Linked DNA regions of Homo sapiens: region 1 is linked to region 2. The links come from fine-mapping of genetic effects on gene expression. A gene starts in region 2. The other region holds a variant in brackets. All regions are shown on one strand. Distances are from middle to middle. Region 1 overlaps LL0XNC01-250H12.3 (a long non-coding RNA gene). Region 2 holds the start of TCEAL9 (transcription elongation factor A like 9).

Evidence for each region. PIP is the estimated chance that this variant, and not a neighbour inherited with it, causes the effect. A credible set is the group of variants that fine-mapping cannot tell apart.
Region 1: its variant is the best candidate, but not a certain one, in a credible set for the expression of TCEAL9 in whole blood (TOPMed, PIP 0.56).

Annotation. Positions count from the first base shown.
Region 1 is chrX:103,457,914-103,462,304 of GRCh38, reverse strand. LL0XNC01-250H12.3 (a long non-coding RNA gene) reads right to left here. Exons shown (of 6, transcript NR_188440.1): 4 at 951-1,090. Among named protein-coding and RNA genes, the nearest start is that of LL0XNC01-250H12.3, 55 kb to the right of the region's middle. RefSeq lists an enhancer at 1,629-2,128. The variant A/G (reference allele first, on the strand shown) is at 1,967.
Region 2 is chrX:103,354,552-103,358,942 of GRCh38, reverse strand. It overlaps TCEAL9 (transcription elongation factor A like 9), which reads right to left and starts at 2,437. Exons shown (of 3, transcript NM_016303.3): 1 at 2,337-2,437; 2 at 1,782-1,860; 3 at 481-1,328. The coding sequence starts at 1,258. The coding sequence ends at 944. It overlaps LOC124905204 (a long non-coding RNA gene), which reads left to right and starts at 2,379. Exons shown (of 2, transcript XR_007068284.1): 1 at 2,379-2,489; 2 at 3,467-4,391. RefSeq lists an enhancer at 1,785-2,984.

The sequences.
Region 1 (4,391 bases), 100 kb before region 2:
GCTCTAGGCACTTGAGCTTTTCCCTGCTCTTGGAACACACGGTGCCCATGCACATTGTATACACACTGGCAAAAAGTCAGTCTGTGCCTAGCTTCTTTTTGTTATCCAGGACTCAGCTCAAATGTCACTTCCTGAAAAGGAGCTTCACTTACAACCCCATCTGTAATTATCTTTATCTTGGTCATTTAATACTCTATATGTGTTAAAACACAAATCCCCATATGAAATTACCCTGCTCATTGATCTGTTTACCTACTTATTACCAGTTTTCTCAAACTAGAAATGATATGTCCGGGGACCATGTTTGTCTTGTTCTCTGTGCTGTTTCCCCGGTGCTTAGATCAATGCTCCACACATAAATCACTGAATGAAAATTACTGAATTAAAGGAACTGGTACCTATTTCACAAAACAGAAATGACACAGATATTAAAAGCAAAGTAGTAGGAGCAACCAATGATGAAATTAGACATGAAAGGATTCAAATTTTTCATAGACCTTGTTGCAAATCCACAGCAGTGCTTTTCAAACATGGATGAGTACCACAACCAATTGGAAAAATTTCTCAAAATATAGATACCTGCCACCACATCTCCCTGTTTTTCATTCAGCTGACTTATGGTAGACCCAAATATCTACTATTTTAACAGGCAATCCATGATGATTTTGATGAAGTAGTCCACGAACCATACTTGGCAAAATTCTGATGAAAACACCTCACATTACTGTGCCATTAATTTAATGCCCACCATGGAGAACTCTAGGACATCTGGATTGTCTCTGTTAAGGTAATTACTCAAAAGTGACTGGTCCTTCCCTCCCACCTAAGATCACAGTTTGCTTTCCCATATGAGTTCATTGTTAATCTCCAGAGTATTCTTGAGTGGTCAGGAAGATTGGGAATTATTATCCTGTTGAATAGATGAGGCTGGTGTAAGGGAAGTGACTCACCTAATATGTCCCAATGATGAGACTTTCATCGCTTCACTCTTGCTCCAGTAGCCTGTCTAGCAGACTCCACATCACATTTGGTTTTTCTCTGTTAGCTCCTAGTTCTAGGGCACAGAGTACACCCCTTCTCTGATGTTACACTAGAAGGGAGATAAGAAAGCACATGGAATAGTGAGGAAAGAAAGAGGACAGGTAAGGAGGTTGTACGTGTGATGATGTTTTGCCTATACCCCATTCAGTTAACTGGAAGCTAAGCAATGAGGTTTTTCCTCTCCCTCAGCTTCATCTCACTGTCCCCACCACCACACAGCAGTGATACTCAAGATTGCACATGACAGGCTGGGCACAGTGGCTCACGCCTGTAATCCCAGCCCTTTGGGAGGCCAAGGTGGGCAGATCACAAGGTCAGGAGACTGAGACCGTCCTGGCTAACATGGTGAAACCCTGTCTCTACTAAAAATACAAAAAAATTAGCCAGGCATGGTGGCATGTGCCTATAATAGTCCCAGCTACTTGGAAGGCTGAGGCAGGAGAATCACTTGAACCCAGGAGGCAGAGGTTGCAGTGAGCCGAGATTGCATCATTGCACTCCAGCCTGGGCACCAAAGCAAGACTCCATCTCAAAAAAAAAAAAAAGATTGCACATAATAAGAAATGATAATAGAAATGTAGACTTAAGTCTTAGCCAAGATGGCCGAATAGGAACAGTTCCAGTCTACAGCTCCCAGCGTGAGCGACGCAGCAGATGGGTGATTTCTGCATTTCCAACTGAGGTACCAGGTTCATCTCACTAGGGAGTGCCAGACAGTGGGTGCAGTGCACCGTGCGTGAGCTGAAGCAGAGCAAAGCATTGCCTCACCCAGGAAGCTCAAGGGGTCAGGGAATTCCCTTTCCTAGTCAAAGAAAGGGGTGACAGAAGGCACCTGGAAAATTGGGTCACTCCCACCCTAATACTGCGCTCTTCCAATGGGCTTAACAAACGGCACACCAGGAGATTATATCCCGCACCTAGCTCG[A/G]AGGGTCCTATGCCCACGGAGCCTCCCTCATTGCTAGCACAGCAGTCTGAGATCAAACTGCAAGGTGGCAGTGAGGCTGGGGGAGGGGCGCCCGCCATTGCTCAGGCTTGAGTAGGTAAACAAAGCAGCCAGGAAGCTCGAACTGGGTGGAGCCCACCACAGCTCAAGCAGGCCTGCCTGCTTCTGTAGGCTCCACCTCTGGGGGCAGGGCAGACAAACAAAAGACAGCAATAACCTCTGCAGACTTAAATGTCCCTGTCTGACAGCTTTGAAGAGAGTAGTGGTTCTCCCAGCACGCAGCTTGAGATCTGAGAATGGACAGACTGCCTCCTCAAGTGGGTCCCTGACTCCCGAGTAGCCTAACTGGGAGGCAGCCCCCAGTAGGGGCAGACTGACACCTCACACGGCCGGGTACTCCTCTGAGACAAAACTTCCAGAGGAACGATCAGACAGCAACATTTGCTGTTCACCAATATCCACTGTTCTGCAGCCTCCGCTGCTGATACCCAGGCAAACAGGGTCTGGAGTGGACCTCCAGTAAACTCCAACACACCTGCAGCTGAGGGTCCTGACTGTTAGAAGGAAAACTAACAAACAGAAAGGACATCCACACCAAAAACCCATCTGTACATCACCATCATCAAAGACCAAAGGTAGATAAAACCACAAAAATGGGGAAAATACAGAGCAGAAAAACCGGAAACTCTAAAAATCAGAGTGCCTCTCCTCCTCCAAAGGAACACAGCTCCTCACCAGCAACAGAACAAAGCTGGATGGAGAATGACTTTGACGAGTTGAGAGAGGAAGTCTTCAGAAGATCAAACTACTCCAAGCTAAAGGAGGAAGTTTGAACCCATGGCAAAGAAGTTAAAAACCTTGAAAAAAGATTAGATGAATGGCTAACTAGAATAACCAATGCAGAGAAGTCCTTAAAGGACCTGATGGAGCTGAAAACCAGGCACGAGAACTACGTGACAAATGCACAAGCCTCAGTAACGGATGCGATCAACTGGAAGAAAGGGTATCAGCGATGGAAGACGAAATGAATGAAATGAAGCATGAAGAGAAGTTTAGAGAAAAAAGAATAAAAAGAAACGAACAAAGCCTCCAAGAAATATGGGACTATGTGAAAATACCAAATCTACATCTAATTGATGTACCTGAAAGTGACGGGGAGAATGGAACCAAGTTGGAAAACACTCTGCAGGATATTATCCAGGAGAACTTCCCCAATCTAGCAAGGCAGGCCAACATTCAAATTCAGGAAATACAGAGAACACCACAAAGATACTCCTCGAGAAGAGCAATTCCAAGACACATAATTGTCAGATTCATCAAAGTTGAAATGAAGGAAAAAATGTTAAGGGCAACCAGAGAGAAAGGTCGGGTTACCCACAAAGGAAAGCCCATCGGACTAACAGCTGCTCTCTCGGGAGAAACTCTACAAGCCAGAAGAGAGTGGGGCCCAATATTCAACATTCTCAAAGAAAAGAATTTTCAAGCCAGAATTTCATATCCAGCCAAACTAAGCTTCATAAGTGAAGGAGAAATAAAATACTTTACAGACAAGCAAATGCTGAGAGATTTTGTCACCACCAGGCCTGCCCTAAAAGAGCTCCTGAAGGAAGCACTAAACATGGAAAGGAACAACTGGTACCAGCCACTGCAAAAACATACCAAATTGTAAAGACCACTGAGGCTAGGAAGAAACTGCATCAACTAATGAGCAAAATAACCACCTAACATCATAATGACAGGATCAAATTCACACATAACAATACTAACCTTAAATGTAAATGGGCTAAATGCTCCAATTAAAAGGCACAGACTGGCAAATTGGATAAAGAGTCAAGACCCACAGTGTGCTGTACTCAGGAAACCCATCTCACGTGCAGAGACACACATAGGCTCAAAATAAACGGATGGAGGAAGATGTACCAAGCAAACGAAAACAAAAAAAAGCAGGGGTTGCAATCCTAGTCTCTGATAAAACATACTTTAAACCAACAAAGATCAAAAGAGACAAAGAAGGCCATTACATAATGGTAAAGGGATCAATTCAACGAGAAGAACTAACTATCCTAAATATATATGCACCCAATACAGGAGCACCCAGATTCATAAAGCAAGTCCTTAGTGACCTACAAAGAGACTTAGACTCCCACACAATAATAATGGGAGACTTTAACACCTCACTGTCAACATTAGACAGATCAACGAGACAGAAAGTTAACAAGGATATCCAGGAATTGAACTCAGCTCTGCACCAGGCGGACCTAATAGACATCTACAGAACTCTCCACCCCAAATCAACAGAATATACATTCTTCTCAGCACCACACCACACCTATTCCAAAATTGACCACATAGTTGGAAGTAAAGCACTCCTCAGCAAATGGAAAAGAACAGAAATTATAACAGACTG
Region 2 (4,391 bases):
GCTGGGACTACAGGCGCCTGCCACCATGCCCGGCTAATTTTTTGTATTTTTAGTAGAGACGGGCTTTCACCATGTTAGCCAGGATGGTCTTGATCTCCTGACCTCGTCATCTGCCCGCCTTGGCCTCCCAATGTTGGGATTAGAGGTGTGACCCACCGCGCCCGGCCTTGGGTTTGTTCTTAATCACAGATAAGAACTACTTTCTCCACCCTTCCAAATCGCTGAAATTAATCTCTTACGGAGTTGGGATGGGAACAAAACTCTGTCAAACATAGCTCACAGTCATTACTCTATTTGGCCCTCACCAGATCCTTGTGAGATTATTTTCTTTATTTTAAAGATGAGAAAATATGTAAAATTTATTATTCTAGCTAAGTGGTCTGGAGTTACTTTCAAGTTCACATTTCTTCTAAAATTCTGTCAACAAATATTAAATGCCCCAATACTTTTAGAAATAAACTAATACGTGCTGCTTGTTGCTTCTTTTTTATAAAACTTTTATTATTCTAGCAATAATAATGTGTGTTAATTTTAGGAATATAGAAAATACAAACAAGCAAAAGGAGAAAAATCATTCATAATCCCACCACCGAGAGGCTGTACTTTCTTTCATCCTTCACAAGTTATGTCCATATATGTAATATACAAATGTACTTTTTACCTTTCAAAAATATGATATTCACATATTACTTAGCCTTTTTCCATTTTATATCTTACCAAGAACCTCTTTTTTACAAATGTGTAAAGTTCTTTTATTAAAAGACAGAGACTTGTAGATTGGTTCAAAATACAATAAACAATGAGATGCAGATAACAAGAGATACATCTAAAACCATTAATAGCAACAGGTTATAAGTAGAAATATGGACAAAGGAATATCAGGAAATGCTAATAAAAAGCAAGCTATATGGTATTGTTAATATCAGATAAAAATCAAGGTAAACTACATTAAATAGGGGTAAGGATGGTTTCGATTAACCTTCCAACGCATCACTATAAGTTTGTTTCTGACTCTCCTTATCTCATCTATTTCATCCACTTCTCTAAACATATCTTCATTGCTTAAATGCCTGTTGTGTATATCTTCTTTAAACTCCTGGAGAGATTGAATCAGCCTTTCTCTAAAAGTTCCTTTTGCTTTGGCCTCCTCCTCTAGCTTCTCCTCCTCTTCTGGCTTTTCCTCAGGCTTTGGCTCTTCCTCATGCTTTGGTTCACTCTCATTTTCTGGTTTTCCTTCCATTTTTTGACAGGATTTCATCTTGTATCTGTCTACCTCTCTTCCTTCCTTCTTTTCTTTCTTGCTTATTCTTCTTTGAATACAATGACTTCTAGAAAGCAAAAAGAAGACAGTAAGTTAAAGACTTGGTGAGTGGACAGGTGCTGTGGACAGAGGCCTTAGCATTTAATTTTTTTTATTCAGAGCTGTTATAAAATATCTTCCACCTAAGAAGCCCAGTCAGCAATCAGAGCTTCACTATCCCCACTCCTTTTACCTCCACTTTCCACCTCCTCACTTCTCTCTTGTCCTTCCCTCTAACCTTTTCCAAGGCCCTCCTTTCCGCCGTCCAGCCCTCCCCAGACCTTTTTCCCCCATAGGGCCTAACACAGGGACCAGGCCAGAAAAGAGAAAGGTGGCTGGCAGGCAGAGGAAGAGGGGAAAGGAGAAGGGGGAGAGAAAAGAAGAGGGGAAAGGGGTGGGGTGGAAGGGAGCCGGCAGGAACGGTGGCGCTTACAACCTTTGTCTCCACCCCAGGAGACTTTATAATATTCCTCTCACCTACCTGGCACTGATCGGGTCAGTTTCTTCCTCCTCCTTTTCTAGCTTTGGGTCTTGCTGGAAACAACAGCCCTGCAGATAAACTGGAAACGGGAGGGGACGGTGGGGGTGGGGCGAGCGCTTGGTGGGCCGACCAGCGCCAGAGACTGACACACGTAGCTTTCCTCCTTTAGGGTTTCGGATATGGAAAGTTTCCCACCTTTTGTTTCCCCTAGTTCACCCCCTCTCCACAGTGCATGCAAGTCAGTTCGTTTTTCCCATCAGACAAAGAGTGAGAAAGCAGATTATTTCCAAACTATCTTTAAGACTGAGGCGGGGTTCGGGAGGAGGGTGGGGGTCCGGAAAGCAGTCTTAGATAGCAGAGGATGATTATTTTTAAACTACCACAGGTCTCCCTGTTCTTCTCCTAGGACCCCTAGTCCCTTTCCCAAGGGTCATCAGTTCCCGTAGACCTGGAGGTGGAGGGTGGAGGGACGGACCTGACCGGCACTCCCACAAGTCTCTGCCTTAAACCCCCCCACACTAGAAATCCCCAGTCAACACCTACAGTGACACCAACCTGCAAAATTCCCGCAAGTTTGACTCCTTCCACGGGCCTCAGGGACCACCGCCTGCGCTGCTGAAGGAAGCTGGTATCCAGACGGGAACAAGGACCAGATTACCAGGACTTCTGCACACGTCGACTCCTGGTCACATGAGATCTACGTCACCAGTGAGCTCGGGTCCCTAATTTCCACTCCCACCAAAAGCGCGGCAGAAGTGGGCCCACCCTCTCTCCCTCCCCGCCCCCCACTTATACATTTGGCCCTGTCAGTCTTTTCTGTTGTTTCCTATCCCAGCGGGAAAAATGTTATTTGCTTGACTCTGATTACTAGGGAGGGGCTACCTCTTTTTCTGGAGCTACTGAACTTTTCTACTTCTTTCGAGAATTGTCTCTTCCATTCTTCCACTCCCAGGATAACTCCTCCATCAGTCGTCCCTCCTCTAGCCTCCATTTCCTCTGCAATCTGGTTCTTAGCTGTTGTAGAGCAGGGTGGCCTTGGCAGCAGTTGTGAAACAACAACAAAAAAAGACCCTGGAACAAGAGTGAGATTTCTGAATGCAATTTTTACTTTTTATTTTTCGTACTTCTATATCCTTTTTAAAAAGGTAACTTTAATCTCTCTCTCTCTCTCTCTCTCTCTTCTTTTTTCTGTCTTTCTTTCTCTTTTTTTTTTTTGAGACAGGGTCTCACTCTGTTGCCCAGGCTGGGTTGCAGTGGTGCGATCACAGCTCACTGCAGCCTCAAACTCCTCGAAACGAGTGATCCTCTTGCCTCAGACTCCCAAGTATCTGGGACTACAGGTGTGTGCCACCATGTCCAGCTAGTCTTTTAATTTTTTTGTAGAGACAGGGTCTATGTTCCCCAAGCTGGTCTCGAACTCCTGGGCTCAAGTGATCCTCCTGCCTCAACCTCCCAAAGGGCTGGAATTACAGGCCTGAGCCACTGCACTGGGCAACTTTTATCTTTTTATAGTCAGAAAAGACAAAGAAAAAATTACTTTAATGACATGAGTTAATACATGTACAGTGCTTATTGTACATGTGGCATATAGTAAGTGCTTTTAAAGTGAAAGCTGTTGTGATATTAGAAGTTTTGTGAGGAAAATGATACAGAATTTTTTAAAAAAGAGTAATGTTTCATTCCAGAGTCCTCATGGTGGTGTTACCAGGAAGCTGTGCTGCCTGAAGAATCATCAATTAATCGTCAGGTACACATTGTGAACCTGAGTTTCCTCATCTGAAAGAAGGGAATAATAGCATATGCTCATAGAATTGAGATCTATTGAAAATAAAAATAAGAGTTAATTTTTCATCTGTACAATTAGAAAAGACAAATATTGATTATATTCAGAGTTGATGAGCATATGGTAAAACAAATATTCACATGTACTGTGAGACTATTAAGTAGTACAACATTTTTGGAAGTCATTTTGGCAATATCAAACTTTAGAAGATATGTGCTTTTGGACACATCAATTCCTCTTCTAGAGATTTATCATACATTAATACTCCTATGCCAAATATGGTCATTGTAGTAGTTGTGGCAATAGTGTTTTTTTTAAAGAGCCAAAAACTTATATGTTTCTAAAAGGAAATTGGTTTAAGAAAAGTTTGATCATTCATATAGAGCCACATTATACAGTGATGAAAAAATGATGTGGAGTTACATTTACTCACATGAAAAAAATTGTTCAATGTATATTGTTAAACAAAAAAAGGCAAATTGAAAGTTAATTTTATATGTGGTATTACATTTTTGTAACAGTATACATATTTGTGTATTTAAAATATGAGTATACAATTAAATTACATGATAACATGATAAGTGAAGTCCAGAAATTCATTCTATAAAATTCCAGGTTATGTTACTGAGAGATGGATGGATGGAATGACTGATGTGAGTCTATTTGGCTAGCTGGCTACACAACCCAAATTCATCAAGGACTCAGCTGTGATTTGTTGCCACAAACAATTCTTCACTGAGCACTTGGACTTAAATATCATCCATCCATTTTACTCTCTCCCCACCTGCTATCACCAATCATGTTATATCCAAACTCAAGTTGTTTCA